Regions from separate parts of the Homo sapiens genome. Here all the other regions are linked to region 4. The links come from fine-mapping of genetic effects on gene expression. A gene starts in region 4. Each other region holds a variant in brackets. All regions are shown on one strand. Distances are between the middles of the regions.

What was found. PIP is the estimated chance that this variant, and not a neighbour inherited with it, causes the effect.
Region 1: its variant is fine-mapped to the expression of ZNF138 in lung (TOPMed, PIP above 0.99).
Region 2: its variant is fine-mapped to the expression of ZNF138 in whole blood (TOPMed, PIP above 0.99).
Region 3: its variant is fine-mapped to the expression of ZNF138 in whole blood (TOPMed, PIP 0.93).

Annotation. Positions count from the first base shown.
Region 1 is chr7:64,837,960-64,846,067 of GRCh38, forward strand. It overlaps a transcript of ZNF138 not described here. Among named protein-coding and RNA genes, the nearest start is that of ZNF138, 48 kb to the left of the region's middle. The variant G/A (reference allele first, on the strand shown) is at 3,969.
Region 2 is chr7:64,636,350-64,644,457 of GRCh38, forward strand. LOC124901656 (a long non-coding RNA gene) reads left to right here. Exons shown (of 7, transcript XR_007060350.1): 4 at 3,138-3,257; 5 at 6,603-7,082; 6 at 7,221-7,324. Among named protein-coding and RNA genes, the nearest start is that of ZNF107, 26 kb to the right of the region's middle. The variant G/A (reference allele first, on the strand shown) is at 4,307.
Region 3 is chr7:64,820,834-64,828,941 of GRCh38, forward strand. The region is part of intron 3 of ZNF138 (zinc finger protein 138); the gene reads left to right. Among named protein-coding and RNA genes, the nearest start is that of ZNF138, 30 kb to the left of the region's middle. The variant C/T (reference allele first, on the strand shown) is at 4,633.
Region 4 is chr7:64,790,992-64,799,099 of GRCh38, forward strand. It overlaps ZNF138 (zinc finger protein 138), which reads left to right and starts at 3,437. Exons shown (of 4, transcript NM_001271639.2): 1 at 3,437-3,580. The coding sequence starts at 3,578. RefSeq lists enhancers at 3,163-3,212, 3,453-3,692, 3,477-4,037.

The DNA.
Region 1 (8,108 bases), 47 kb after region 4:
AGTGAAGGCGTCTGGCGGTAGGTGGAGGGAATGCCATCAATCCTTATAACAGAGATTGAGGAGGGGCGGCTGGGTCTGCTAAAAGATGGCAAAACAGAGTAGGTAGCCCTTGTGTCTAGTAAAAAGGAAATGGACTTACCCGCTACCTGAAGCATTACCCTGGGCTCGGCAAGGGTGAGAGGGGTTCCCAAGTCTGGGCCTCTTCAGTCGTCATCCAGTTGGAGGAGCTGGAGGGCACCTTCGCCATCCGAGGAGGGGTCGCCATGTGGAGACACAGCGGCCGCTCCGAGGCCGGGGCAGTCTGACTTCCAGTGCCCCATTTGTTGGCAGTTAGGGCACGGGCGTGTTGGCGGCTTGGGGTTTGGGCACTGTTTTGCCCAATGACCTGGATTGCCACACTTGAAACAGTTGCAAGGCAGGCAGGACGGTTGCTGTTGGCTAGGGCACCGGCTGGCCGTGTCCTGAGTTGCCGCACTTGAAGCAGGTGCCAGACGGGGCCTGGGAGATCGTACCTCTACCTCTCCTGCTGGGGCTCTTAGGGAATGCCGGTTGCAGGGCAGCTGCCAGGGCTTGGGTTTGGAGCTGAACTTTTTGTTTCAGTCTTGCCTGTCGTTGTACCTCAGCCGCCTCCTCTCGGGAATTAAAAACTTTGAACGCCAGCTTTACTAAGTCCTGGATAGGGGTTTGGGGGCCCTCCGCTGCCTCATCCAGGATTAGCGGATATCACTGCCCGCAGCGAATGTGTTAGGAGTTGTAGATGTAGTGGACTGGTATGGCACTACAGGGAGGTGGAAATAAGAATGGGGGTAAGATGGAAGCCAAGGAGTTAGGTGGGCAGGGTTAAAAGAACAAATGGGAACTAACAGGAATTAAAATGGCGGCCAAATGGCGGCAGAAGAACTAAAATGGTGGCAGAGAAAAAAGGAAGTAAGATGGCGGCGGTGAGGAAGCAGGTAGTAAGATGGCAGTGGTGCAGAAGGAGATGGCGGCGGAGAGACTAAGATGGGGGCCGTGGACAAGATTAATGGCAAGAGAGGCTGGTCAGACTTCAAGGGGAAGGCTAGCCAGAGGGACTTGTGCCAGCGAAAACACTTGGCGGCAGCGGTCTGACGAGAGCGGAGGTCCCAGAACCTTTGAACAAATTTGATTTTTGACTATTTGCCTCGCCTCTGACAAAAATTGGTAAGGTCGTTTAGGATATTGAAGTTGAGTGTGCCTTCGGGGGGCCAGCGAGATTGGTTGTCTAAGGTATATTGCGGCCAGGCAACTGTGCAGAAGAAAATTAGTTGCTTTCGTTTTAAATCTTGGTCGAGTTGTAAAGTTGGGAGGTTGCGCAGGAGGCACCCTAAGGGGGTGTTTTGCGTGATTTTGGACTGGGTGGACCCCATCCTCTTCCCTTTATGGCAGCCGTCTGAGGGACAGCAGAAGCGTCCTTCTGGGGTCACTCAGACCACGCAGCTCCTGGAGCCTCGGATCGGCTACTTCAGACACAGACGTCTCTGAGTCGTCAATGCCGATTTGGACTTCCCCTGGGGAAGTAAACTTGGGTCTCCTGGTGACCCGGACTGGCCTTCCCTTGAGGAAGGAAACTCTCCCTGGGTGTGCGCATGACTCTCGGCCAGGGAGGAATGGACAAAAGGAAAAAGGAGGGGTACTCACCCAGCGTCTGCCGAATTGGACTGGAGTAGCTGCAGCAGCTGTGACCTGGCGGCAAGTAACCGGACGAAATGGACCGATGGCCGTGGAGGAGAAGCCTGACCTGACTGAGGGAGAGGCCTGATCCGACCAGGAGGGGAGTCTTCCCGAGCCTCTGGGGGGCTTAGGAGGTGTCCCCTCCCGTGTTTCGGCACCAATGAAAGGCAATGGAAGGGCACCATGGATCAATAAGGCGGAGAGGCGAGACAAAGAGGGCAAAAATCTTCTTTATTGAGCTCTCAGGTGAGGTTCACTGGTCCGCAGCGGGAGGGCCAGGGAAGTCGCACTGTGCCAAAGGTGCAGCGCACTTTTATGGATGCTGGGTGAGGAGTGGGCGGGGTAGGGGCGGGGTCGGTTGAGTTTCGCGCTTCTGAGTGTGACACGTCCTAGTGGGCATGCGCGTTAGTCGGGGTGGTGGGAACAGGAAAGGTGAACCTGGAAATGCTGAGTCGGGGTATCTGAGGTGGCGATCGCCATCTTGGAGTCTTCACCAGAGTCCAATCACAGTTTTAAAGATTTAGATTATTATAAACTTAATTTTTTAATTAAAAATTTTAACATAAGACCACTGTGCATTCAATGAAGTATTATTATGCCACTAACTTTTACCTATCCTACCTTACTCAAGGGTGTAGGTCAAAGATGGTAACAATAGACTATTTGATAACATAATGGACTAACATCTCCAATAATTTATTTTGCCAGTGGCTTCAAACTGCAAATAAATTAATGAATATCGTTCCCGTTGGTTAAATTTTTTATTTATAATTTAAACTTATTTTTCTCAATTTTTGTGTGTACATAGTATCTGTTTATATTTATGTCATTATATGGCATTTTTTGATACAGTCATATAATTTATGTATTAATCAGATAAGGGCAAATGAAGTTTCCATCAACTCTAGCATTTATCTTTTGGATTACTAACCCATTCTACACTTTTACTTACTTTAAAATGTACAATTAAATGCTACTGACTACAGGGTCATTTTTATGAGTGAAATAAAAATTATTTACAAGTATAAATAAAACCCTGAGTCTTAAAATTCTGAGTTCTGCTTAAACATTTAAAAAAATTTGTTATGTATTTTTCTTTGAACATTTGGTCTCTCTCTGCCTGCAAACATACAGAATTTTAGTTTTAATTTACATAAAATTAGCTATGCACGTATGTTACTCTAAATAAACCTTAGGTGCAAGAAAATTATAGAGTATATATGAGGATGAGTCTGTACCTATTTTCAGAAGAATAGAGCAATATTGTAACAAAACAAATATTTTAATAAGGTGACTTATTAACTGAAACTGAAAACCTCAAAAATGCTGAAAGCAAATCTATACTCTGCTTTTTTTTTAAATTTATTACTGTAAAATCTTCTGACTTAGGGTTCAGAATCTCCCCATGAAAAATTTCTGTTTTTCCTTGCCTAGTACTCATGCTAGACCTATAATTTTCTTGTCTCTTACGATTTTTTCTTTTATAGTTTATGAGGTATTCATTACGTGAGCTGGTCATGACTAATAACGATTTTTATAAAATTTAATGCACACTGAACAATTTTTAGATGTATTTCCAAAATTGTGTATTTTATTAGGACATTTGATTTTTTCTTTTAATTGGAGAATTCTACATAAGCCTGTATTTTTTAACTTTTTTTGTTCTCATTATAATTGACATAAATATATTTATTGAGGCAATTTGTTCAGATAAGAACTCGGGATGCTTCATAAGTCATGATGTTTTTTAATATATAAATGTGGCGAACAAACATGACAGTGCTTGCTGTGTAGCAGATGCTCCATGATAAGCCATAAATATTCCTGCTAGAGTTAGTTTGTAAGTTCAAGTCGGAGAGGGAAAATATCAATAGTGAAGAAATAAGATTGATTCTTCCCGTGGAGATAACAATTGTTTTCATGCTGCGAAGCTAAATATTGCTGAACCTAAAGAGAAACTCTGTTTCTTTTATTTCCTAATTATCTTTAGTTTTGTTTGTCTTATTATGTGTCTTCTGTGTATTCATCACAGCCCCTCTCCCTTTTTTCTACGTGATTGCTACAGTTTTCTCATTGTCTTCATGCCATGTCATTTTACATGGTACTTTGTAGGTTTTGATGAGAAAGTTGGTATTTTTAATGCACTCAAAAATTGGTTTTAGTTAGAGAGTTTGCTTATCAATATAACTTTCAGATCAGTTAATTAAGATAAAACGCATACACTGTCCATAGATCAGAGGATTAAATAACTTAGCATTGTTTTTCTGTTTGTAAAC[G/A]GAAAATCTTATTAAATTCTTACACAGAGTGTGACACATTTAATATTTGCTAGAAAATGCATCTTAGAAATTAAATTATTAAGAGTTAGTGGTGAGGAATTTTAAATTTAATGTTCTATGATATAGCACAACACAGATTTATTTATTTATTTATGAAATGGAATCTTGCTCTGTCACCCAGGCTGGAGTGCAGTGGCGTGATCTTGGCTCACTGCAACCTCCGCCTCTTGGGTGCAAGCAATGCTCCTGCCTCAGCCTCCCTAGTAGCTGGGATTGCAGGTGCCTGCCACTACACCCAGCTAATTTTTGTATTTTTAGTACAGACGTGGTTTCACCATGTTGGCCAGGCTGGTCTCGAACTCCTGACCTCGTGATCTGCCCTCCTCTGCCTCCCAAAGTGCTGGGATTATAGGCGTGAGCCACTGTGCCCTGCTGAATCTTTTATTTTTAAGTGTGAATGTTAAAGGTTGCAAAATAATAAAATGACCTCTGTGGATTTGAAATTTGGAATAATATTTCTTGTCCATATTGATATTACAACTCAGAGGAATTTCACCCTGTTATTTTATGTGTCTTTTTAGTGAGTGAAGGTCAGTGTACAGTTTATATTCTTAGTCACCTGTCGTCAACTTCTTGGTCATTTTCTCTGGAAAAATTCTGGAGATGATGGCAACTTTTAGATTATTTTGTGTTACTTTTTATGCAAACTTGTTCATTGTGTTCCCAGAGTGGCCAGTCATAAGTCTGTAAGCAACACCTTCCCTTTTAGTGTCTTCCATGTCATCACCATCTGTAATAAATAAGTAAATGTGTATTTATTTTGTAAAACATAATACTTGGAAGTATATATACATTGTCAAATGCTTAATTCTAGGTAGTTACCTCACATAGTTAACATTTTTGTGGCAAGAGCATGTGACATTGTCAGCATTTTTCAAAACTACAAATACATTATTTTGATCTATAGTCACTATGCTGTACAAAACAATCTCTTGAACTTATTCTATTAACTATAATTATGTATTTTTTGATCAACATCTTTTCAAACCCTCCTTTCTCCTAAATAACTTGTGTCTGGTGGCCACCACTTTACTTCAATAAGATTAAGTTTTTTAGAATCCCTTTGTAAGTGAAATCATGAAATAATAATCTTTGTGCCTGGCTCATTTCGACAAATATAATGTTTTCCTCCAGGTTAATTCGTGTGATTGAAAATAATAAAATTTCCTTCTTTAAAGATGAATAGTATTCCATTGTGTGTATATACCACATTGTCTTTATTTACTCATTAAATGTTGAAACCACTGATTTTATATTTTGGTAATTGTGAAGAGTGTTGTAAAAAACAGGCACATGTTTCTTCATTCTGATTTCGTTTGTTTTGGATGTATAACCAATAATAAAATTGCTGTATTTGGTGGTTTAATTTTAAATTTTTTTGAGAAATCCTTATTTTGTTTTTTGTAATGACTGTCCTCATTCACATTCAAACCATCAGTGTGCAAGCATTGCCATTTTTTCACACCTTGACTAACACATTTTTAAAATAGGAGTAATTCTAACAGAAATAAGTTGATATAGTTTTTTTTGCTTTCCTTTCCCTGATAATAACTGATATTGAGCATTTTTATGTGTCTCTTGACCATATGTATGTCTTGAAAAATATTTAAGCCTTTCATTCTTTTTAATAGTCTTTTGTCATATAGTCATTTGAGTTTCTTATATATTTTTGATATTAACCCCTTGTCACATGAATGATTTGCAAATATTTTCTCCATTTTTTTAGTTGTCTCATTTTGTTGATTGTATCAGATTCCATGCAGCAGCTTTTTAATTTGAACTAATCTGACTTACCTATTTCTCTTTTGATTCCCTGGAATTTTGAGGTTAGTTTATTTTTTTTATTTTTTTGTTTTTTGAGATGGAGTTTCGCTGTCACCAGGCTGGAGTGCAGTGGTGTGACCTTGGCTCACTGCGTCCTTCACCTCCCCAGTCCAAGAGATCTCCTGCCTCAGCCTCCTGAGTAGCTGGGACTACTGGTGTGCGCCACCATGCCCAGCTAATTTTTGTATTTTTAGTAGACACAGGGTTTCACCATGTTGGCCAGGCTGGTCTCAAATCTCTTGACTTTGTGATCTGCCCGCCTTGACCTCCCAAAGTGCTGGGATTACAGGCCTGAGCCACTGCGCTGGCCAAGGTTAAGTTTTTAAAAAGTCACTGCAGCCTAGAACTCCTGGGCTTAAGATGTCCTCCCTCTTCACTCTCCCAACTAGCTGGGACCACAGGCCCAAGCCTGTGTGCCCAACCTGTTGTTATTATTTTTAATGTTTGCTAGTTCCAGGGGTGCACAGAGATTTAAAGGGCACATTTTCTCAGGGTTTGGGCATAACATGAGCACTGGGAATGGAAAAGGTCCTACAGTGCCCAGAAGAATAGAGTCTGGATGTGGGTCTTACCACTCCCTTTCTCAATTTGATTCATTCTTCTTTGAGGAGACAGTGATAGCAAAAGGGAACTTGGGCTTGGGGTTGGAGGGTCTGATTTTAGGTCTGGAGTCGATCTCTGAAAGGCTATGTGAGATTGGCACTGTCTACAACCTCTCTTCTGCATCCGCAAAATGAGAAAGGTGAGGCTGGATGAGCCCTGAGGTCCCTTTCACTCTTTTTAATTTTTTATTTTTTTTTAATTTCCATAGGTTTCGAGGAACAGGTGGTATTCAGTTACATGAGTAAGTTTTATGTGTTTTTTTGTTTTGTTTTGTTTTGTTTTGTTTTTATGAGACAGAGTCTTGCTGTGTCACCCAGGCTGGAGTACACTGGCACAATCTCTGCTCACTGCAACCTCTGCCTCCCGGGTTCAAGTGATTCTCCTGCCTCAGCTTCCTGAGTAGCTGAGATTACAGGTGCAAGCCACCTCGCTCAGCTAATTTTTGTATTTTTAGAAGAGACGGGGTTTCACCATGTTGGTCAGGCTGGTCTCGAACCCCTGACCTCGTGATCTGCCCGCCTCGGCCTCCCAAAGTGTTGGGATTACAGGCGTGAGCCACCGTGCCTGGCTGAGTAAATTTGTTAGTGGTGATTTGTGAGATTTTGGTGCACCCATCACCTGAGCAGTGTATAATTAACCCAATTTGTAGTCTTTTATCTCTCACCTCCTTCCCAACACTCCTCTCTGAGTCTCCACCATCCACTGTGTCATTTTTATGCCTTTGCATCCTCATAACTTAGCTCCAACTTATGAGTGAGAACATACAATGTTTGGTTTTCCATTCCTGAGTTACTTCACTTAGAATAATAATCTTCAGTCCTATCCAGGCTGCTGTGAATTACATTAATTCTTTCCTTTTTATAGGTAAGTAGTATTCCATCATATATATACTACAGTTTATTTGCTCGTTGATTGATGGGCATTTAGGTTTGTTTCACATTTTTGCAATTGCAAATCATTCTGCTATAAACATACATGTGCAAGTATCTTTTTTGTATAATAACTTTTTGCTCCGGGTAGACACCCAATAGTGGGATTGTTGGATCAAATGGTAGTTCTACCTTTAGTTCTTTAAGGAATCTCCACACTCTTTTTCATAGTGGTTGTGCTAGTTTACATTCCCACCAGCAGTGTAGAAGTGTTCCCTTTTCACTGCATCCACACCAACATTTATTATTTTTTGATTATTTGATTATGGCAATTCTTGTGGGAGTAAGGTAGTATCACATTGTAGTTGGGATTTGCATTTCCCTGATTATTAGTGATGTTGAGCATTTTTTCATATGTTTGCTGGCCATTTTTATATCTTCTTTTGAGAATTGTCTTTTCGTGTTTTTAGCACACTTTTCGGTGAGATTGTTTTTTCCATGCTAATTTGTTTGAGTTCATTGTAGATTCTGGATCTTAGTCCTTTGTCAGATGTATAAATTTTGAAAATTTCCTCCCACTCTGGGTTTTTGTTTATAGTTTTAGGTCTTAGATCTTAGATTTAAGTCTTAGATCCATCTTGAGTTGATTTTTGTATAAGATGAGAGATGAGGATCCAGTTTTATTCTTCTACATGTGGCTTGCCAATTATCCCAGCACCATTTGTTGAATAGGTTGTCCTTTTCCCACTTTATGTTTTTGTTTGCTTTGTCAAAGATCAGTTGG
Region 2 (8,108 bases), 150 kb before region 4:
GCTGGGAGGCTTCTGCTTGGGCCCTGTCCACAGGGGGCCTTTTGACATATTTCTGCATTTATCACCTAGGAGATGTAACTCTTCATTCTGCCTGAACCCTGGCCACGAAAAAAAAATCGTGACAGATTTTTTAGGCCAGTAACCAGGTGATGTGAATTTCCTCTCCTACCTAGGCACTGCCCATAGGGGGCACTGTGACATATCACTGGGCTCCACACCCAAGGTATGTGATTCTTCTGCCTGTTCCCTGCCCACATAAGGCATTATAACATGTTATTTAGTCCAAAACCCAGGTAATGTAACTCTCCTGCTTAGACCCTGACTACAGGGGGCACTGTGACATATCTCTATGCACATCTCGCAGGTGATATGACACTCTCGTTTTGCCTGATCACTGCTCATGTGGGGGATTGTAAAATACCACTGGGCCAAGCACCAAAGTGACATTGCTCTTTTCTCTTTGGCTTGGCCTTGCCCTCAGAAGGCATTGTGACATATTGCTGGACCCAGCACCAACGTGATGTGAGTCTCTTTCCTGAACTCTGTCCACAGGGGACATTGTGACATATCTCTGGGCCTGTCAACTACTTGATGTAACTCTCTACTCTTACCTGGGCATTGCCTGTAGAAGAGATTGTGACAATTCCCTCCTGAAAGCAGAACACGGGCAGCCGAGTTACATAACCTGGACGCATGGCCTAGTGATAGTTCCCAATCTTCCTTGTGGGCAGGGTGCAGGTAGGAAAGTCATATCTTCTAAGTGATAGATGCAGATAAGTATCAAAAGGTCCCCACATAGGCAGGATCCATGCACAAGCCTCCCATCTCCCAGTGGTGGGGCCCAGCAATTTGTTACGATACCCAAAATATGTGAGGCCCAGGCAAAAGGAGAGAGTCACATCACCTAGGTGCTGTGTTCAGTGATATGTCACAATCCTTCTATTTGGCAGGGCTCTGGTGGAATAAGAGAGTCACATCACATAGGTAATAAAGAAAAAGATATTTTAAAGTACCCTGTGGGCAAAACCCAGGCAGGAGAGTCACATCATGTAGGTATTGGACTCAGCCATATGTCATAACACACAATGAATACAGGACCCAGGCAAAGGAGGAGTCATATTATTTAGGTGCTGAGCCCACAGGTATATATCAGAATCTCACTTTTTGGCAAAGCTCAGATGTGAAAAGAGCATCATATCCAATAGTTGAGGGGCCTAGAGATATGTCAAAATGCCCTGGGTGGGCAGGGACCATGTGGAGGATTAAGGTAAAAGAGGAAAGTTACATCAAAAGTTTATAGACTAAAAAATACGTTGCAGTGCTCTCTGTGGGCAGGGACCAGGCAGAAGAATTACATCACTTGTGTGCTGAGGTCAGCAATAAGTCACTTTTTTTTTTTTCTGAGGGGGTTTGTCCAGAAGGAGAGGACCCAGAGACAGAGATATGTCAGAATCTTTCAAAAGCAAAGTGCAAGTAAGAATAGAGAGTCACATCAAATAGTTGATAAGTTTGAGATATGTCACAATGTGTCTCCAGGCAAAAGAGCCACATGATTTTTGTGCTAGGCCCAGCAATAGGGCTGAATGCCTTTCCAGGTCAGGGCCAAAGCGAAACGGTAACATCCTGTTAGTGTTGGGTCCAGTGGTATGTCACAATTTTCCCTGAAGACAGAACCTAAAAACAATAGAAGAGCCACAATCCCCTCTGTTAGCATGAATCAGGAAGGGGAAGAGATTTATGTAACCTGGTTGATGGGTACACACATATATCACAATGTCCTCTGTAAGAAGTTCCCAGGCAGGGAAGTTTCATTACCTAAGTGTCAGGAATCAGGAAGGAGAAGAGATTTATGTAACCTGGTTGATAGGTACACAAATATGTCACAATGTTTCCCGTAAGCAGTGCCCAGGCAGGAGAGTTACATTACCTAAGTGTTAGACTCAGCAGTATGTCCCATTGGCCCATGTGGGCAAGGCACAGGCAGAAGAGCCACAAATCCTTGACACAGGATGCAGCAATATATCATAATGCTCCCTGTATACAACACCAAGGCAGAAGAAAAGACTCACATAACTTGGGTGCAAGACCCAGCAGTATGTCATAATTCTTCATGTGGGCAATGACAAGGCTTGAGAGTAGAGTCACACCACCAAGGTGCAGGGTCGAGCAATATGTCACAATTTTATCTGTGAGTTCACTCCAGGCAGCAAAGTCGAACCACTTAGGTGCTGGGTAAAGGTGTATGTCACAATCACACTTGCAGGAAGGTCCAGGAATAAGATCACAATCCCACACATGTTCTAGTTCTAGGTGGGAGTGTCAACATATCTTGTATGTTGGGTCAATCTCTCCCAAGAGGATTGACCGTACACCCATATCACACCCTGCTGACAGTAAAGATTGTTATCATTTCCCGTGAACACAGCCCACTGTTGAGATTCTGAAACTCACACCTGGAGGCAGTCAAAAGTTGGAAAATTGACTCTCATATGTGGATCAGGTCCACAAGTGTTCTGGTGACTCTCAGGCTAAGATTCAGCAAACCTGTGAGGCTGGGACTCTACTAAGGTGAGATAGTCTGCAGGAAAGATTGAGGCTCCCATGCACTGATCCAGTCCACTGCTGAGATGGTGACTCATGTACTTAAACCCAACATACAAGAGGTGCTGACTTTCATACCTAGAACCCGGACATGTGTGGGCTTGTTAATACCATCCCTGCACCTTCCTACAGGTGTGATAGTTAAATAAGTCTCTGCCCAGCTCTTAAGTGATTTGACTCTCTTGCCTGGGCCCGGCCCACAGTTCAAAATGTGCCATGTTGCTGGACCTGGCCCCTAGGTAATGTGATCTAGTCTCCTGTCTCAGCACTGCCCACAGTGGGCATTGTGACATATCACCGGGCCTTGCACCCAGGTGATGTGAGTCTTCTCTTCTGCTTTGGCACTGCCCAAAGTAGACATTGTTACATATCACCAGGCCTTGCACTCAGGTAATGTAACTGTCTTGTCATGGCCCTGCCTGCAGGAGGCTCCATGATGTCACTGTCTTCTTCTACCTGGTCTTTGCTCACAGCGGGTATTGTGACATATTGCTATGCCCAGAATCCAGCTGATGTGACTCTCCTCTTTTTTCTAGGTTCTGCCCACAAGGGAAATGGTGACATATCACTGTGCCCAGCACCAAGGTGACGTTACTCTTTTGCCTTGGCCCTGCCCTCAGAAGACATTGTGACAAATAGCTGAGCCCAGAACCAAGGTGAACCTGCCTGAAACCTCCCCACAGGGTCATTGTGACCTATCTCTGGGCCAACCAACTATTTAATGTGTCTCTCCTCTCTTGCCTGGGACTTGCCCATAGGAAAGATTGTGACATATCTCTGGGCATAGGACCTAGGTGATATGACTTGCTGTGCTTGTCTGGGCAATTTCCACAGAAGAGAGAATGACTTATTCCTGGGCTCAGCATACAGGTGATGTGATTCTTCTGCCTGATCACTGCCCACAGGAGTTATTGTGACATGTCTCTGGGCCAATTACCTAGATAATGAGACTCTTCTCTTCTTTCTGGGACCTGTCCATGGCAGGGATTGTGACATATGGCTTGGCCCAACACCTACCTTTTTTTTTTCTCCTTTTTTTTGAGATGGAATTTTGTTCTTGTTTTCCAGCACGTAGTGCAATGGTGTCATCTTGGCTCACCGCAACCTCCGCCTCCAGGGTTCAAGCGATTCTCCTGCCTCAGCCTCCCAAGTAGCTGGGATTACAGGCACCCACCACCACACCCAGCTAATTTTGTATTTTTAGTATGGATGGGGTTTCTTTGCCCCCCTTATTTAGGCGATGTGAATTTTTTTCTTGGGGCCTACCCTCAAAGGGTATTGTGACAAATTGCCAAACTCAGCACCTAGTTTATGTGACTCTTTTCTATTGCTTGAGCTATGCCCTGAAAGGGACTGTGATGTACCACTGGGCCTAGCACCTAGGTGACATGACTTGCATCTTCTGCCTGGGTACTCTATATATTGTGTATTGTGACATATGGCTTGGTCCATTGAGACTCTTCTGCATGGGCTCTGGCCACAGGGGTATTATGAAACATTTTTTTATTCATCACCTAGGTGATGTGACTCTCCTCTTCTTCCTGGGCCTCACATATCAGTGGACCAAGCACCTCTGTGATTTGACTCTCTTTTTTTCTCAAAATCCACATACTTTGGATATTGTGACATATTGCTGGGTCCAAAACTTTCAGAAAGGGAAGTTCCTGCCTGGGCACTGCCTTGTGATAAATATCTGCATTGTCAC[G/A]CATAGGGCCTTGTGATATATATCTGCGTCTGTCACCAAGGAGATGTAACTCCCCTCTTCAGCCTGCATTCTGTCCACATGGAAGATTGTGACATATTCCTCTCCCAGCCCCCGGTTGATGTGACTCTCCTGCTCAATCCTTACCAACAAATGAGATTGTGACATATATCTTGGCCTAACTTCTATGTGTGATGATGACTCTCATTCCTCAAATTAGCTAGTAAAAATAAATACTCTCTCTTATAGCTAGGCTGAGGGAAACAGGTAAGATGCTGGGTCTCCTCTTTGTACAAAGATCATAAAGAATTACCACTTTCTCCCACATTGTATAAAGCCCTTGGGTGATGCAGAGAGCGTAAATTCAGGGGAGATTTTTCTTTTCATAGACACACCCAGCCAACTATTAGCACTGTCACCTTGACACATGAAGAGAGCCCAATGGTGACATCCTCAATCCAACTTATGGATGCAGTCCACGGTTAGATTTGTGATTGCATATGTGAACATCTGAACATCTGGCCACAGTTGGAATGTTTACTCATTTCTTTTTCTCTTTTTTTTTTTTTTGAGACGAAGTCTCGCTCTTGTCACCCCGGCTGGAGTGCAATGGCGCAATCTTGGCTCACTGCACCCTTCACCTCCTGGGTTCAAGCAATTTTCCTGCCTCAGTCTCCCCAGTAGCTGGGATTACAGCCACCTGCCCCCACATCTGGCTAATTTTTGTATTTTTAGTAGAAATGGTGTTTCACCATGTTAGCCAGGCTGGTCTCGAACTCCTGACCTCAGGCAATCCACTTGCCTCAGCCTCCCAAAGTGCTGGCATTACAGGTGTGAGCCACCACACCCAGCCCATGGTTACTCATTTCTAAACCGAGCTTATAGGCAGGTGAAGACCCTCCTATCTAAAACCAGTCATTTTAAGAGATATTCAGTCTCATATCTGTGCCTACAACCACAGGTAAGATAGTGGTTATAAGCCCAAATACAGTTATAAACCTAGAGCATTGTGACATATCTCTGGATCCAAGTACAAAGGTTTCAGAGCAGATTGCAACTCTCATGCATACTGTGTGATGTCCTTAGTAAAACAGAGAGGGTCCCTACAGTATCCAGCACACAAGTAAAATTGTGACACTTGTATGCACACATGGCCAACAATAAAGACTGTCATTCAACCACATAAACACAGCCAATGTTGGGGTCCTGAATCTCACAACCAGAGGCAGTCAAAAGTTGGAAAATTGACTCCCATACATGGATCTGGTCCACAGGTGGGTTTGTGACTCTCAGGCCAAGATTCAGCAAACCTGTGAGGCTGTGACTCTATGAAGAATATACAGTGGACTTGAGGGACTGTGGCTCCCAAGCATGGATCCAGTCACCTGTTGAAATTGTGACTCATGTACTTGGACCTTACATACAGGAGGTATCGACTCTAATACCTAGGACCGGGACATGTACATAATTGTTCATTTTATCCCTGGACCTTTATGCAGGTGTGATTGTAAAATATTTCTTTGCCCAATACCTGAGTGATTTGACTTTCCTAGCTGGGCACAACAGGTGGAATTGCGACATATTGCTTAACTCAGAACCTACGTGATGTGTCATTATTCTCCTGCCTTGGTATTGCCCACAGGGGCATTTTGCTATATCTCTGGGCTTTGCACCAAGGTTATGTGGGCCTCCCCTCCTGCTTTGGCACTGCTCACAGGGGTATTGTGACATGTTGCTGGGTTCTGCATCTTGGTACTAGATGGCTTCTGCCTGTGCCCTGTCCCCAGGAATAATTGTAAAATATTGGCTGGGTGCAGTGGCTCATGCCTGTAATCCCAGCACTTTGGGAGGCCAAGGTGGGTGGATCAAAAGGTCAGGAGTTTGAGACCAGCCTTGCCAACATGGTGAAACTCCGTCTCTACTAAAAATACAAAAATTAACTGGGCATGGTGGCACGCACCTGTAATCCCAGCTACTCAAGAGGCTGAGGAAGGAGAATTGCTTGAACCCAGGAGGCGGAGGTTGCAGTGAGTTGAGATCATGCCACCTCACTCCAGCCTGGGCAACAGAGCAAGGCTCTGTCTCAAAAAAAAAAAATCGTGACATATTGCTACGTTCAACACCCAAATGATGTAACTTTCCTGCCTCAGTCCTGCTTAATGGGGGCATCATGTTATATACCTCTGCACCTGTCACTCAGGCAACATGACTCTCTTCCCCTGCCTGGTCCTTACAGAGGAGATTGTGACCTACTGCTGGGCCCAGCACCTAGCTGATGTGACTCTTCTCTTTTTCCTAGGTTCTACCAACAGGGAAGATTGTGACATATCACTGGGCCTAACACCAAGGTGTAGTTACACTTTTGCCTTGGCCCAGAACTCTGAAGTTCACTGTGACGTACTGCTGGGCCCAGCACCAAGGTGATGTGAGTCTCCTGCCTGGAGCCTGCACACAGGGGCTATTGTGACATATCTCTGGGCCCATTTACTATTTGTTGTTACTCTCTTCTCTTACCTTGGCTTTGCCTGTAGGAGAGGCAAATCCCAGCACTTTGGGAGACCAAGGCGGGACATAACTCTGGGCCCAGCACCTAGGTGATGTGACTCCCTTTTCTGCCTGGATGGTGCTCACAGAAGAGAAAGTGACTTATTTCTGGGCCCAGCAGAGAGGTGATGTGATTCTTCTGCCTGGTCCCTGCCCACAAAACTCATTGTGACTTAACTCTGGGCCCATCACCTAAATGACGTGACTCTCCTCTTCTTCCTGTGTCCTGTACATGGTAAGTATTGTGACATTTCACCAGGCCTTGCACTTACTAATGATGTGATTTTTCTCTCATGCCTTGGGCCTGCCCACTGAGATAACTGACATAGCTAAACTCAGCCTTTATGTTATGTAATTTTCCTCTTTTTCTGAGTTCTACCAACAGGGAACATTGTAACATATCTCTGGGTCCATCACCTGGATAATGTGACTCTTCTTGGGACCTATTCACAGTGAAAATTGTGACACATCTCTTGGGTAAGCAACTACATGATATGACATTTCTGTTATGCCTGGGCTCTGCCAACTGGGGTGATTGTGACATATAGCTGGGCCCAGCCCCTAGGTTATGTGACTCTCCCTTTGTTTCTGAGCCCTCCCCAAAGGGGAAATTGTGACATATATCTGGGCCTGTCACTCAGGTAATGTGACTCTCCTGCATGAGCCCTCTCCTCAAAGGGTATTGTGACATGTTGCTGAACCCAGAACCTGTGTGAATTGACTCTCTTCTACTGATTGGGCTCTGACCAAGAAAGAATTGTGACGTATCATTAGGCACACCACCAAGGTAATATGACTCTTCTATTGTTTGGGCTTTGTCCAATGAGGGATTTTGACATATTACTGGGCTCAGATCCAGGTGATGTGACTCTCTTTTACTGCCTGAACCTTGCATACATTGCATATTGTGATATAGGACTGAGGCCAACACCTAGGTTTTGTGACTTTTCTGCATGGGGCCTACACACAGGGGCATTCTGTCATATATTTTTGTTCATCACCTAGAAGATGTGACTCTTCTCTTTTACCTGGGCATGGCCAAAAGGGGATTGTGACTTTATTAGTCCATTCTCATACTGCTATAAAGAACTGCCCAAAACTAGGTAATTTATAAAGGAAAGAGGTTGAATTGACTCACATTTCAGCATGACTGGAGAGGCCTCAGGAAATTTACAATTATGGTGGAAGGCAAAGGAAAAGCAAGGCACCTTCTTTACAAGTTGGCAGGAAGGAGAAATTCTGAGCAAAGAAGGAAGAGCCC
Region 3 (8,108 bases), 30 kb after region 4:
GATTACAGGCGTGAGCCACTGCACCCAGCCCATAATTTTATTTATAATTACTTGAGAAACATTTATAAAATTTTAAAATAATGACTGCATTCTTGTTTTCCACCAACAATCAACATGGAGTTTATTTTTATTGCATTATCAACAGATTTGGTGTTTTTAAAAAAAATTGATGATGGCCATTCTAATTGGTGTGAGGTGATTGTTTTTTTTTGTTTTGTTTTTGGTTTTTTTGTTTTGTTTTGTTTTTTGTTTGTTTGTTTGTTTGTTTGTTTTTGGGACGGAGTCTGGCTCCGTCGCCCAGGCTGGAGTGCAGTGGTGCAATCTCGGCTCGCTGCAACCTCCACCTCCTGGGTTCACGCCATTCTCCTGCCTCAGCCTCCTGAGTAGCTGGGACTACAGGCGCTTGCCACCACGCCCGGCTAATTTTTTGTATTTTTAATAGAGACGGAGTTTCACTGTGTTAGCTAGGATGGTCTTGATCTCGTGACATTGTGATCCACCCACCTCAGCCTCCCAAAGTGCTGGGATTATAGGTGTGAGCCACGGTGCCCAGCCTAGGTAATTGTTTTTTATTGTAATTATTATGCATTTCTCTACAAATATTAATTTAGTGTGTTTTTTCAAATGCTTTTTCCATTTGTGTATCATTTTTAATGAAAATTTACTTCAATTATTTGTTCATTTCTAAATCAAGTTATTCAACTTTATATTCTTTTTGTTTGTTTGTTTTCGAGACACAGTCTCACTTTGTTGCCCAGGCTAGAGTGCAGTGGCATGATCTCAGCTCACTGCAACCTCCACCTCCCGGGTTCAAGTGATTCTCATGCCTCAGCCTCCTGAGTAGCTGGGATTACAGGCAGGTGCCACCACGCCTGGCTAATTTTTGTATTTTTAGTGGAGACAGGGTTTCACCATGTTGGCCAGGCTGGTCTCCAACTACTGACCTCGTGATCCTCCTGCCTTGGCCTCCCAAAGTGTTGGGATTACAGGCATGAGCCATCATGCTGCTCTTTATTTGGTTTTAAGAGTTGTTTATGTATTCTGAATATAACTCCTATCACATGTGATTTGCAAATATTGTCTTTTTTTTTTTTTTTTTTTTTGAGACAGAGTCTGGCTCCGTCACCCAGGCTGGAGTGCAGTGGCGCGATCTCAGCTCACTGCAAGCTCTGCCTCCTGGGTTCACGCCATTCTTCTGTCTCTGCCTCCCGAGTAGCTGGGACCACAGGTGACCACCACCACGCCTGGCTAATTTTTTTGTATTTTTAGTAGAGATGGGGTTTCACCGTGTTAGCCAAGATGGTCTCGATCTCCTGACCTCAAGATCCACCCACCTTGGCCTCCCAAAGTGCTGGGATTACAGGCGTGAGCCACCGTGCCTGGCCAATTTGCAAATATTTTCACCCATTTTCTAGGAGACCTTATCACTCTATTGAATGCTGTATTTAATGTGCAGAGATATTGAAGTCTAGTGTAGTTCAATTTTTCTGTTCTTTTCTTTGTTTCACATGCATTTAATGTTGTGTCTAAGAAAGTAATGCCAAGATCAATGTCATGTTTTTTTCTTACATTCATTTCTAAGAGATTAACAGTGATTTTTTAGGTCTAAACATTTTTTTTAAAAAAATATTTTTTGTATGTGGTTCGAGAAAATGATCCAACTTAATTTATCAGTGTTATCCAATTTTCAACATTACTTTTCCAAGAGACGATCTTTTCTCTATTGTGTGCTCATGGCAACTTTGTGGAAGATCATTTGATCATATATAGAAGGGTTCATTTCTGGGCTGTCTTGTTCTTTCATCTGTTTATCTATTTTTGTGTCAATACCACATTGTTTTTGTTACTGTAGCTTTTATTATGTTTTGAAATCAGAAAGTATAATGCATCTTCTTTTTAATGGATGTTTTGCTATAGTTTTTAATCAAATTTAAAAATTTTAAACTATTTCTGTAAAAAGATTGCGCTATTAGAATTTTGTTAGAGATTATGTTGAATTTGTTTACCGCTGTATGTTGTATTGACATCTTTGAAAAATTAATTTTTTTATTTTTTTTTTTTTTTGAGACAAAGTTTCACTCTTGTTGCCCAGGCTAGAGTGTAATGGCACGATCTTGGCCCACTGCAACCTCCTCCTCCCTGGTTCAAGTGATTCTCCTGCCTCAGCCTCCTGAGTAGCTGAGATTACAGACATGCACCACCACGCCCGTCTAATTTTGTATTTTTAGTAGAGACGGGGTTTCTCCATGTTGGTCAGGCTGGTCTTGAACTCCCGACCTCAGGTGATCCGCCCACCTCGGCCTCCCAAAATGCTGGGATTACAGGCATGAGCCACTGCGCCTGGCTGAAAAATTAAATTTTTTGACCCTTGAGCAAGAATATGTTGAAGAGTATGTTTTATTTTTATATATTTTTAGATTTTCCAGTTCTACTTTTGCTTTTAATTCCTAGGTTTATTCAGTTTTGGTCAGAAAACACACAGTGTATGATTTTGGTTTTAAATGCATTTGTTGCTGTTTTGAGATGGGATCTTACTATGTCACCCAGGCTGGAGTGCAGTGGCATACTTTTGGCTCACTGCAGCCTCAGCCTCCTGGGCTCAAGTGATCCTTCAACCTCAGCCTCCTGAGTAGCTGTGACTACAGACATGCACTACCATGTTCAACTAATTTTTTGATTATTTGTAGGGACAAGACATCACTATGTTGCCCAGGCTGGTCTCAAACTTCTGGCTTCAATGATCCTCCCACCTTGGTCCCCCAAAGTGTTGCGATTATAGGCATGAACCACTGCACCCAGCTGGTATTCTTAAATTTAATGAGGCAGCTGGGCGCAGCAGTTCACACCTATAATCCCAGCACTTTGAGAGGCTGAGGCGGGTGGATCACGAGGTCAGGAGTTTGAGCCCAGCCTGGCCAATATGGTGAAACCTCATCTCTACTAAAAATACAAAAATTAGCTGGGCGTGGTGGCACGCGCCTGTAGTCCCAGCTACTCTGGAGGCTGAGGCAGAAGAATCACTTGAACACCGGAAGCAGAGGTTGCAGTGAGCTGAGATCGTGCCACTGCACTCCAGCCTGGGTGACAGATTGAGACTCCACCTCAAAAAAATAAATAAATAAATTTAATACGGCTTGGTATGATTTATAACAGAATACACCAGATGCAGATAAGAATATTCTGTATTCTCTTGCTTTTGACTGGAAAGTTTGCACATAACTGTTAAGCCTAGTTGGTCTGTAATATGGTTTGGATGTCCATGTTCTCCAAACCTCATGCTGCAATATAATCCTCAGTGTTGGAGGTGGGACCTAGGGAAGTGTTTGGGTCATGGGGGCAAATTTTTCATGAATGGCGTGACACCATCCTCTTGGTAATAAAAAAATTTACACTTAATTCACATGAGAGCTGGTTCATTGAAAGAACCTAGCTTCTTTACCCCACAATTCCTGTCCCTTACCATGTCACATGTCCAGTTACTCTTTGCCTTCCACCATGATTGTAAGCTTCCTGAGGCTCTCACCAGAAGCAGATGCTGACACACACTTCTTGTACAGTCTGCCAAACTGTGAGCAAATAAACCTTTTTTCTTTACAGATTATCTACTCGGGTATTCCTGTGTATGCAAAATAATTAATATAGTCTATAATGTTGTCTAAGTTTTCTGTTTTCTCTTGATTTTTTATCTGAACTTTCTATTTATTATTGAAAATGGGGTCTTGATTTCTGCAATTATTATGTTGCTATGTATTTCTTACTTGACTTTTGTCAATATTTGCTTTCTACATATTGGAGCCCTGATGTTGTACATGCACATACATAGACAAATATAATAGTTATAAATTCTTGATAAATTTACCCATTTTAGTATTACATAATATCAGTTTTTGTCTCTTGCTAGTACTGGACTTAAAGCATATTATGTTTAATATAATTATGACTTCCTCACGCAATTGTGGTTACTATTTGCATAGAATAAAGATATTTTCCATTCTGATACTTTCAGCCTATTTGACTCAACGCTTATGAGTCTCTTTTTTTTTTTTTGAGATACAGTCTTGCTCTGTCACCCAGGCTGGCTCAATGCAACCTCTGTCTCCTGGGTTCAAGCAGTTCTCCTGCCTCAGTTTCTCAAGTAGCTGGGATTATAGGCATGCACCACCTCACCTGGCTAACTTTTGTATTTTAATTTTTTTAGTAGAGATAGGGTTTTACCACTTTGGCCAGGCTGGTTTCAGCCTCCCAAAGTGCTGGAATTTCAAGTGTGAGCCACTGTGCCAGGCCTAAAATGAGTCTCTTGTAGGCCGCATGTTGTATGCTCTTTTTTTTTTTTTTTTTTTTTTTTTTTTTTTTTTTTGAGACGGAGTCTCGCACTGTCGCCCAGGCTGGAGTGCAGTGGCGCGATCTCGGCTCACTGCAAGCTCTGCCTCCCGGGTTCACGCCATTCTTCTGCCTCAGCCTCCCAAGTAGCTGGGACTACAGGCGCCCGCCAACAGGGCCGGCTAATTTTTTGTATTTTTAGTAGAGACGGAGTCTCACCGTGTTAGCCAGGATGGTCTGGATTTCTGACCTCGTGATCTGCCCACCTTGGCCTCCCAAAGTGCTGGGATTACAGGCCTGAGCCACCGCACC[C/T]GGGATTGTATGCTTTTTTCTTAAGCCACTCGGGCATTTTCTTTTTCTTTTTCTTTTTTTTGCTATTTATTTATTAACTTTTTTTTTTTTTTTGAGACAGAGTATTGCTCTGTCGCCAAGCTGGAGTGCAGTGGCACAATCTCGGTTCACTGCAACCTCTGCTTCCCGGGTTCAAGCGATTCCCCTGCCTCAGCCTTCTGAGGAGCTGGGACTACAGGTGCTTGCTGCCATGCCTAGCTAATTTTTGTATTTTCGGTAGAGACAGGGTTTCACTATGTTGGCCAGATGGTCTCGATCTCCTGACCTGGTGATCTGCCCACCTTGGCCTCCCAAAATGTTGGGATTACAGGCATGAGCCCCCGCGCCTGGCCATTATTCATTTAGTTTTAAGATACTGTTACACTTCGTCAATCAGGCTGGTTTGCAGTGGTGTGATCATGGCTCACTGCAGCCTCAAACTCCCAAACTCAGATGATCCTTTTATTTCACCCTGTCAAGTAGCTGTTTACACGTAAGTACCATTACACCCAGCTAGTTATTTATGTATTTTTTGTAGTGATAGGGTTTTGCCATGTTACCCAGGCTTGTCTTGAACTTCTGGGATCAAGTGAATAGCCCCCCTTGGCCTCCCAAAACCCTAGGATTAATTTCTTCCTATTGAATAGTTTAATTTATATTTAAATTGATTGTTTAAAGAAAGGAAATTAGTTACTAGTTTGTTATTGTTTTATGTGTTTCCTGTAGTTTTTTTTCTGTTTTACTGCCTTAATTTTTGTTTATTTTAATTGTGTAGTGACGTGCTTTGATTATTTATTTGTTTATTTATTTATTGAGACAGAGTTTCGCTCTTGTTGCCCAGGCTGGAGTGCAATGGCACGATGTTGTCTCACCACAACCTCTGCCTCCCGGGTTCAAGCGATTCTTCTGCCTTGGCCTCCCAAGTAGCTGGGATTACAGGCATGCACCACCATGCCCGGCTAATTTTTTGTATTTTTAGTAGAGACGGGGTTTCTCCATGTTGGTCAGGCGGGTCTCAAACTCCTGACCTCAGGTGATCTGCCCGCCTCGGCTTCCCAAAGTGCTGAGATTACAGGTGTGAGCCACCCAGCCTGGCCTTAATTTTTTAAATGTGTGTATTTATTAATATATTAATATTTCATTTAACCTTTTTTTAAAATTTTTTTTTAGACAGAGTTTCACTGTCTTCACAGAGTTTCATTGCACCCAAGGCTGGAGTGCAATGGTGTTATCTCGGTTCACTGTAACTTCTGCCTTCCAGGTTCAAACAATTCTTGTGCCTCAGCCTCCCAAGTAGCTGGCATTAAAGGCACACACCATAATTGCCAGCTAATTTTTGTATTTTTAGTATAGACAAGGTTTTGCCATGTTGGCCAGGCTAGTCTCAAACTTCTGGCCTCAAGCAGTCCACCTGCCTCGGCCTCCCAAAGTGCTGGGATTACAGGTGTGAGCCACTGTGCCTGGCCTCATTTTTCATATTCTGTAGAAGAAGTTTAAGGGTTTTATGCACCATCATTATTATAGTAAAGAATATGTGTCTATATACATTTATAATAAAGAGGTTTATATTTATAAATGTTTTTATAATGGTGTCCATCATTTTTCAGCATAAGGGACTCATTTTAGCATTTTTTTTTTTTAATATGCAGTGTCTTACTATGTTGCTCAGGCTGATCTTCAACTCCTGGTTTGAAGTGATCTGACTGCCTTGGCCTCCTAAAGCTGTAGAATTACAGGGATGAGCCACTGTGCTTGGCCACCATGAAACTTTTTTTTTTTTTTAAGACAGAGTCTCACTCTGTCACCCAGGCTCGAGTGCAGTGGCACAATCTCGGTTCACTGCAAGCTCTGCCTCCCGGGTTCACGCCATTCTGCCTCAGCCTCCCGAGTAGCTGGGACTACAGGCACCCGCCACCACGCCTGGCTAATTTTTTGTATTTTTAGTAGAGACAGGGTTTCACCGTGTTAGCCAGGATGGTCTCGATCTCCTGACCTCGTGATCCATCCGCCTCGGCCTCCCAAAGTGCTGGGATTAACCATGTAACATTTTTTTGTAGAAGTGTTCTAGTGGTAATAAACATCCTCACCTTTTATCTTGGAGAGTCTTTATTTTTATCTTGTTTTTGAAGTCAATTGTGAATCAAGTATTATTAGTTAGATTTTTTTTATTACATCAAAATTTGGAAAGTTTTCAGACATTTTTGTCTTCAAGAAAGCTCTGGATTACTTTTTTTTCAATATTCTTCTAAGATTTCTTTCATGAATATATTGATGTACTTGATGGTGTCTAGTAAGTTTTACCTTTCATGTTTTAATTTTCTTCTGCAATTTTATACCTGTGAGTTAGATATTTTAGGGTATGCCACCTCACACCAATCAGTTGTATTTTGATGTTTATATTGTGTATGACAATATTTATCTCTGTACAATTTAAGACAGTGTGGAGCAAAGTCAAATATGAACCATATGTCTACTGCCGATATAATTCTCTGTTTGCCTCTATGAATATTATCCTTGTGTTTTTTATAACTTATTTATTTGTGGTGTTGGTTTATTGTGAATGGTTGTTTAATCTTGTCTAGGTAAAAAGTCAAAAAAATTCTCCTAATGTCAACATTTATTTGTGAACCTATATTATGTTTGTTTGAGAGAAAAAACTTTTGGATTTGAAGATAATTTAAAAACTATCATAATTCTGGTTTTTTTTTAGGTATTGTTTATTTTTACCTGTCAAAAACACATAAAAAATTTACAATCAAGTATTTTTAAATATTCAGTTTAGTCATCTTAATGTTATGCAACATATCCCTAGGATGTTTTTACCTTGCAAAGCTACATCTCACTACACATTAAACAACTACCATTTTTTTCCATTTCATGGCAGTTTTCAAACACTATTTTGTTTCCTGATTCTAAGAGTGTAACTGCTTTATATATCTTAATACAATCTTTTCCATGGCTGGCCCATTTCATTTTGCATGTTATGAAGATTTATGCTTATAGTTGTTACAATATTTCCTGCTTTTTGAAAAATGAGTGATATTTTAAATTATATTTACTGAATGATTTGTTGACCGAAATTTGCATTGCTTTTACCTATTGGCTTTCACTAACAATTCTGCAAAAATTATGAGTATAAAAATGACTCTTCATATGACTGTATATTTGAAAGTATATATATGTTGCATTCTATTTTATTAGTCTACTTTTTAACATTTGTACTCATACCAAATTGTTTTAATTCTGTAGCTTTGTAATATGTTTTGAAATCAGAAACTGTTCTGCCTCCGACATTGTTCCTTTTTTTTTTTGAAGTTTGTTCAGTACTTTATTGTCTCTCGACATTTTATATACCTTTGGTGTTGCTGTTTCTATTTCTTGAAAACTGCAATGAGAAATTTGGAAAACATTGCATTAAATCTGTATATTACATTGAGCAGTATGGATATATTTACAAC
Region 4 (8,108 bases):
TAAACATAGGGTTTTGCCATGTTGCCCAGGCTGGACTTGTATTCCTAGGCTTAAACAGTCTTTGTTTCTTGGCTTTTTAAAGTGCTGGGATTAGGTTGGGCACAGTGGCTCGTGCTTGTAATCCCAGCATTTTGGGAGGATGAGACGGTTGGATCACTTGAGGTCAGGCATTTGAAACCAGCCTGGCCAACATGGTGAAACCCCGTCTCTACTAATTATCTAATTCTCTAGAGAATTTTGCAGCCAACTTTATATATGAACAAACTTATGCCTTGATAGGTACAAGATGAAGGGTCAATGTGGGTGAGAAATTCTAATGGGACATTTGTTGCCTCATAATATCAGAAACACAGAATATAGGTCCACTGCTCTTAACCTACTTCAGAAGTTAAAAAGAACTCATTCACAATAAGTTTCAGAGCATTGCCTGGCCATTACTCTTCTAAATAAGCATCATTTGTTAGGTCTTTTTTTTTTTTTTTTTTTCATGGTTCAGGGTAAAAAAATCAGGCATTGGTTAGACATTTATCCTTCATAATAGTCTCTATAGCAGATTCTACTGCAAAGGCTATGGTTACACAATAGACTTTTTTTACTAAAGTTGTGCTAAATAATGGAATTTCTTGAGATTACTTATTGCATAAACAGAAAAGTATCTGTGTAGTTGCTAATATGCATAGTTGCACATGGAGAAATATATTATAGAGATTATACAGAAATATATTACACGTATTACAGAGATTCAGTTACGGGGGTTTAAGAAACAGGCTGCTTGGTTGAAATGAGGAGACCATTTATTTAGCTGATAACTTGGTCTATCTCTCAAAATTGAGAAGATAACCAAAAAGGAGAAATTGTTAAATTATAGCCTGAAGCTCTCTGTTTTCATGTTTAATTTTGGTCAGTAGGTTTTTTGTTTGTTTGTTTTTCTTTTTTTTTTTTTTTTGGTACATACTAAACTGAAACCTAACTGGATATGTAAGTAGATTATAACCCATTCCTGTACCAGCCACTGTGATTTTGCCAATAAAAGGACATCAACTCTTCAAACCATGTTCAAATAAGGCAAATCCCAAGCTGTAATCAATTTGGCTGTTTCTGTACCTCAATTTCATTTTCTGTATGCCACTTTGCTTTTTCTGTTGATCAATTTTTTTACCATGTTGCTGTGCTGGAGTCTCTCTGAGCCTATTCTGGGCCCACAGGCTGCCTGATTTGCAAATCATTCTTTGTTCATTTAGACTCTGTTACATTCAATTTCTCTGAAGGTTTTGTTTTTTTTTTTAGATGTTTACAGATTTTATCTATGATAAAAAATAAGTAATGTGTTGCTGGGCTTTGATTTTCTCAACTCATCCCTCATCTATCTTTTTCCACATATGCTATGTCCTTTTGAAATGCTCCTGCAACTTTTTTCTTTTCTGTTTCTTTTCTTTTCTTTTTTTTTTTTTGGAGAAAGGATCACACTCTCACCACCCAGGCTGAAGTGCAGTGTCGTAACCAATCATGGCTCACTGCAGCCTCGACCTTCCAGGCTCAAGTAATCCTCTTGCCTCTGCCACCTGAGTAGCTGGGACTACAGGATTGCCTCATGCTGGCTAATTTTTATTTTTATTTATTTTTATTTTTTATTTTTTTTGAGACGGAGTCTCGCTCTGTCACCCAGGCTGGAGTGCAGTGGTGGGATCTTGGCTCACTGCAAGCCCCATCTCGTGGGTTCATGCCATTCTCCTGCCTCAGCCTCCCGAGCAGCTGGGACTGTATTTTTAGTAGAGACGGGGTTTCACCGTGTTAGCCAGGATGGTCTCGATCTCCTGACCTCGTGATCTGCCCTCCTCGGCCTCCCAAAGTGCTGGGATTACAGGCATGAGCCACCGCGCCCGGCCATGACTGGCTAATTAAAAAAAAAAAAATTTTCATGCACATAGGATCTTAACTATGTTATTCAGGCTGCACTTGAACTCCTGAGCGCAAGTGATTCTCCCATCTCAGCTTGCCAAAGTGCTAGGATTATAGATGTGAGCTACCGTGTGCTTCTTCAATTTCTTAAGATTATTTCTAGCAATAATAATAAACAGTGCTATATGGGCACAAATCTAAAAGAAATCTGGCTTCTATTTTAGAAGTGTCACTCTCCAGGATTTCAAGGGTCAAATGGAGTTAATTCTGAGTCCCAGCCCAGCCACTTAATAGCTGTGGGTCTTTGCACAAATTTTTTTTTTTTTGATGTGGAAGAGTTATATAAACCACATATGCAAAAAAAGGCAGAATGATACTGATTGCAAAAATGTTAGCAATTTTTCATCCCTCCGCTATCCATGCCCATTGCCAGGTGCATTTACAGCTGTTTCCATTGAGATCCAGTTCTGTTTTCCAAACCCTAGATCTGGCTGGCCTTATTTGCTCAGGGCAGTAAAAACCTGTGAACAGTGCAGTGTGCTAGTTTGAGGCGTAGGCTCAAATGGTTTTGCATGCTTCTGTTTTTCTTTCAGAAGGCTACTATCTCCGCGAAAAAAGCCCATGTTAGCCAGATGGAAGATAAAATAGTATGGGGAGGAGAAGCAAGTTGCCTCTGTTGACAGCCTCAGAAGCAGAAGCTCACCCCCAGAAGCACAGCTGCCTAGTCAACAAGCAGCTGATGATACATGTCTGAAGGAACTCAGCTGAGGTCACAAGAATGGTCTCACTGAGCCCAGCCTAAATGACTAACCATCTCAATTAGAGTGAATTCCACCTGTTTATTCTTAAAGTTTGACTACTAGAAAATTTGGAATTCACATGTGCTCTGTAATCCCAGCACTTTGGGAGGCCGAGGCAGGTGGATCACCTGAGGTCAGGAGTTCGAGATCAGCCTGACCAACATGGCAAAATTCTGTCTCTATTAAATATACAAAAAGTAGCCGGGCGTGGAGGCGGGTGCCTGTAATCCCAATTACTCAGGAGGCTAAGGCAGGAGAATCACTTGAGCCCGAGATGCGGAGTTTGGGGTGAGCCGAAATCGTGCCACTGTGCTTGAGCCTGGGTGAGAGTGAGACTCTGTCTCAAAAAAAAAAAAGAAAAAAATCTCAGGCTGCCTGCTCAAAGGACCAGAAGCCAGTACGGTTATAAAATCTGGAATTTAAAAATAATTGTTATATTCAGATGTGAATAGCTATATGTTATTTATAAATGCATACGACCTTATACACAAGGTTAAATGCAAATGCCCTCTGGGGTGGGCCTGACTCAGCTCAGGGAGGAAGCCCTTCTGGAAAAGGCTGCTGCTTAGGTTTAACTCTGTCTTCCTTCAGCCCAGCACCTGAGCACATCTGTCACTCAGGGCCTGAGGGGGCGGGTTGTTAAACGTTATCCAATCAGGGACGCCGGGCTGGGAACGGTCCAATCAGGCACCCAGCTGGAGCGGACATGACGTCTTCCGGGAGGCGGCGGGGTCTTTGTCTCGCTGCAGCGGGTGCTGCAGGTCTGGCCTTCACTTTTCTGCGTCCTCTTACTCCTAGAGGCCCAGCCTCTGTGGCGCTGTGATCTGGTTATTGGGAGATTCACAGCTAAGACGCCAGGATCCCCCGGAAGCCTAGAAATGGTGAGAGTGCTGGGTCCGACATCCCGAGAGAGGGGGAGGGAGCTGGTTGGAACCGGTCGGAAGTGGCTGTGGCAGTACTCGGGTCTTCCCGCAGTCGGCTGCAAAATCCGCGGCCCCGAGTTCTTGGCACAGCTCGGCCCTCAGTCCCCTTAAGCCATAGCATGGCAGCTGGGCTGACAGCCGGAACCAGGCGTCCTGTCTCCTCCCTGCGCAGTGACTGTGCCCTGGCCTGGAGCCCTCTCTGAGCAGCTCTGCACCCGCAGCGATTGTGCAGAGACGACGGGAGGGTCGTCAGGGGAGAATCCTGACTCGGGGTGCTGGGTTCATGAATGGGAAGAGGTTTCCTCCGCGGGCTTCCCTGTCCCTCTTTTCCCCTATTAAAATTTATGAAAGTCACCGCAAAAAAATTAATTTAATCAAACAGTGATTCAAGAATTGTGGAGCACCCAGCTGTGGTTTGCAGTAGTGGTCCGTGGGAGGGGTTTGAAGGAAACACTTGTATAAGGTGTATGATAAAACCAAATTCAGTAATTGGTTAGTAGAGTTATGTAGTTTCTTAATTTGTACAATGAAGGAGGAAATTTCCTGGTCATGTAATCAGAGGTTAATTGGCAGTTTACAGTTGGTTAAACATGAATTTTATTTTTCACAAGGTAGTAATTTACAAAAAAATGCATTTGAGTTAGATTTTTTTAAAACCAGAAACCCTGGGACTGGAGCGACCTCAGTCTAATTGCCTGCCACTTAATTATTTTCACACTCCACAGGGGACAGATCTTCCCCTTCATTTTTCACATGTGTCCCAAGCAGGGTCTCAAGACTCCTCCCCCTCCCCATTTCCCATTCCTTCAGCCTAACTCTGGCTTGCAGTAAAATACTAAATTTCCAGTTCCTTCTGACATTCCCAAATGCCAACTTCCCCTTCCTAATTCACATTATCAACTATTTGTCCTTTAGTGTACATTTGAAATACTGTATTTTAATTAATCATTTTTTGACAAAGCATGGATGGCATTTTAAAAAAGATTTGTTATCTGTTTGTAAATATTTCCCATGAGAAGAAACCAAAGACTCATCCCCTGATGCTGTATTGTAAAAAATCTCTGTGCCTTTTTTTTTTTTTTTAAATCTTCCCTAGGTACAGAGATCTTATCAGAATATTTTTGGGTCAAGGTTTCCCTTTGGAAACTTTATAAGGTAATGTGTCCTTAGTCACTCTTCAGTTTTTTCCTTGGTCCTGGGTTTCAGTACTTTCTGAGGATAAATCAAAATATCCACTGTGGCTGTGTATGCTAGAATCTCTGGTAAATTTCAGCTCCTGGCCTGGAATGAACTCTGGTTATCTGGGAATGGGAGACAGAGGACAACCTGAGGTTGGAGTGTAGCCTCTCAAGGGAGCAGGTGAATGCCCTGGGGCTGAGAGGAATCTCCTGGTGTACTCTTCCTTTGAAAAGCAAACCCTTTGAGAAGTTAAGATTGTCTTCAAACCAACCCAGTGTCCATTTCCGGAGACATATTGCTGGTCAATCAATCATATGCTGGTATTGAGGGGAGAACACAGAAATAATTTCGGCCCACTGGATTCTCTAAGATTTGTGAAAGAAATGATAGTATCCAAAAAGACAAATCAAACCTTACCCCAGTGAGATGGTTCAAGAACTTGCAAAGTGAAATGTACTTGGGGCAGTCACTGAGGCATAGTGCAGCGTCTTCAGAGAGGGTGGTCTTCAGAGAGGGTGGTCGTTTAGCACTTAAGTGAGCAGGATGGGGTGGGAGAATCTCTCAAGTGATTGGGTGGCTTGACTTGACATGTGAGTGAGATACATCTGTTTTTTAATCAGCACTGCCACTCCCTGGGATTGTCACCCTGAAAAGATTTGTTCACTTACTTCAGTGTTTTAATTGTAACTTGCAGTTTATTAGTAGGACTAAAAGGTAAGAGGATAATTAGAATGGGCATGAAAGAGATGGGTTTTGGAAAAAAATATCTAATCATATATTCTATTTGTTAAGTATTCTCATTTACCTTTTTCTTTCCCAGACTGAGTTTAGGAATTTTCTCAGGTCTGTTTTTTTATGGCTGGGTGATGTCCAAGAGTATTCCAAGGCTTAGCTTTTAGAATGCTACCAAGGAAAAGAATAGGGAAAATACTTCTTCCATTTTGGCTGTGGAAAACGAATACATTTCCGGCGGGGTGCGGTGGCTCATGCCTGAAATCCCAGCACTGTGGGAGGCCAAGGCAGGGAGATCACCTGAGGTCAGGAGTTCTAGACCAGCCTGGCCAACATGGTGAAACCCCATCTCTACTAAAAATACAAAAATTAGAAATTAGCCATGAATGGTGATAGGCACCTGTAATCCCAGCTATTCGGGAGGCTGAGGTGGGAGAATCATTTGAACCCCATAGGCAGAGGTTGCAGTGAGCTGAGATCGTGCGGCTGCACTCCACCTTGGGCGACAGAGCGAGACTCCATCTCAAGAAAAAAGAAAGAAAGAAAATGAATACATTTCCACAAGAAGATGTGGTAGATAATTGGTGAGTTATACAGATTCATGAAAATATCAGTTCCTCCTTTTTCAGGGTACATTTCAGTGAATACCTCTCTTCTGTATCCAGTCATCTTGATTTCTGAGGTTAATGCTAAATTTTTTAAGATGAAACTTGGTCTATCCTAGAAGTGTTCCCATATGACTAATTGTTTACTACATCATTTTTAATGGATATAATAAAATAATTATTTATCGTTTTAAAAGATTACATACTTTTGCATTTGAGATATGTGACGTAAGTGCTTTAAAATTTCCTTCCCTTATATAAACACTGTGTTTGAGTAATTTTGCTGAATTTTTCAGTTTAAAAAACCATTTGAACAACTCCGACATGGAAATTAAAGCTTGCGCCAGTGACTGCAAGCTAAGGCTAATATTGAGCCTACAAAGGGAAGGGAGGTTATTAAAGGCCCAGTTAGTTCTTTCTAGGAAGCCTCCCCTGCGGATGTCGGAGCCTGCTCACCCCAGCCATGGAAGAACCTTTATACTGAGAGAAGCTACAGAGCCCTGGAAAACTGGAGACCCACAGGCAGATGCAGTAAACATTAAGATGGAAGGGGATTGGGAGGGTCATACTCAGGATGAAGTTGTTATTGTTTTGAGGCAGTTTCTAGACTTTGTAAAATAAAACAAAATTAGGTTTATTTTTTAAAAAATTCTAAAATACTGCAACAGAAGGAAGTACCAACTATATAATCTTTAAGGATTGCAAAGTTTAGGCAGATAAAGGCTTTCTTAGGGAGGAGCAAAAAAGATTAGAAGGTGAGAGGGGAATGGCAAATGGAGGGTGTATAAATCAGATTTTATTTTTTATTTTTTAATTAAATTATTTTTTTGAGACAGAGTCTTACTTTGTTGCCCAGGCTGGAGTGCAGTGGCTGGATATCACCTCACTGCAACCTCTGCCTCCTGGGTTCAAGTGACTGTCATGCCACAGCCTCCTGAGAAGCTGGGATTACAGCCGCCCACCACCATGCCGGGCTAATTTTTGTATTTTTACTAGAAATGGGGTTTTGCCATATTGGCCAGGGTGGTCTCAAACTCCTGACCTCAGGTGATCTGCTCTTCTCAGCCTCTCAAAGTGCTGGGATTACAGGCGTGAGCCACCACGCTCAGCCCAAATCAGATTTTAGATTAGAAAATGTTTTACCCTGAAGTCAGCAAGTTTTTAGGAGAAACATAAAATGGGGTTGTATGTTGGCTCAGACTGAGTAGCTCAAAGTTCAGGAGCTGTGGGAAGGAGATAAACTTAACTATATTTTGATTAAGAAGTATTTTATTTGACCGCTGAAGAAAAATTCGGCTATTTTTTTAAATACAAAAAAGAAAATCTTATACATAGTGCTAGCTAGTTATTCCAGTACCATTTTATTAAATAGGGAATTCTGGCCGGGCATGGTGGCTTACGCCTGTAATCCCAGCTCTTTGGGAGGCCAAGGCGGGTGGATCACCTGAGGTCGGGAGTTTGAGACCAGCCTGACCAACATGGAGAAACCCTACAAAAAAAATAGTCGGACATGGTGGCCCATGCCTGTAATCCCAGCTACTCAGGAGGCTGAGACAGGAGAAACGCTTGAACCTGGAGGCGGAGGTTGTGGTGAGCCGAGATTGAGCCATTGCACTCCAGCCTGGGCAACAAGAGTGAAACTCCGACTCAAAAAAAAAAAAAAAAGGAAATTCTTCCTACATTGATCTTGTCAGCTTTTTTGATGATCAGATGGTCAGATGGTTGTAGATGTGTGGCATTATTTCTTGGCTCTATTCTGTTGCATTGTTCTATGAGCCTTTTTTTTTTTTTTTTAATCACTACCATGCTGCTTTGGTTACAGCCTTATAGAATAGTTTCAAGTTGGATAATGTAATGCCCAGCTTTGTTCTTTTTGCTTAGAATTGCCTTGGCTATTCAGGCTCTTTGTTGGTTTCATATGAATTTTAAAATAGTTTTTTTAGTTCTGTTAAGAATGTTTTTGGTAGCTT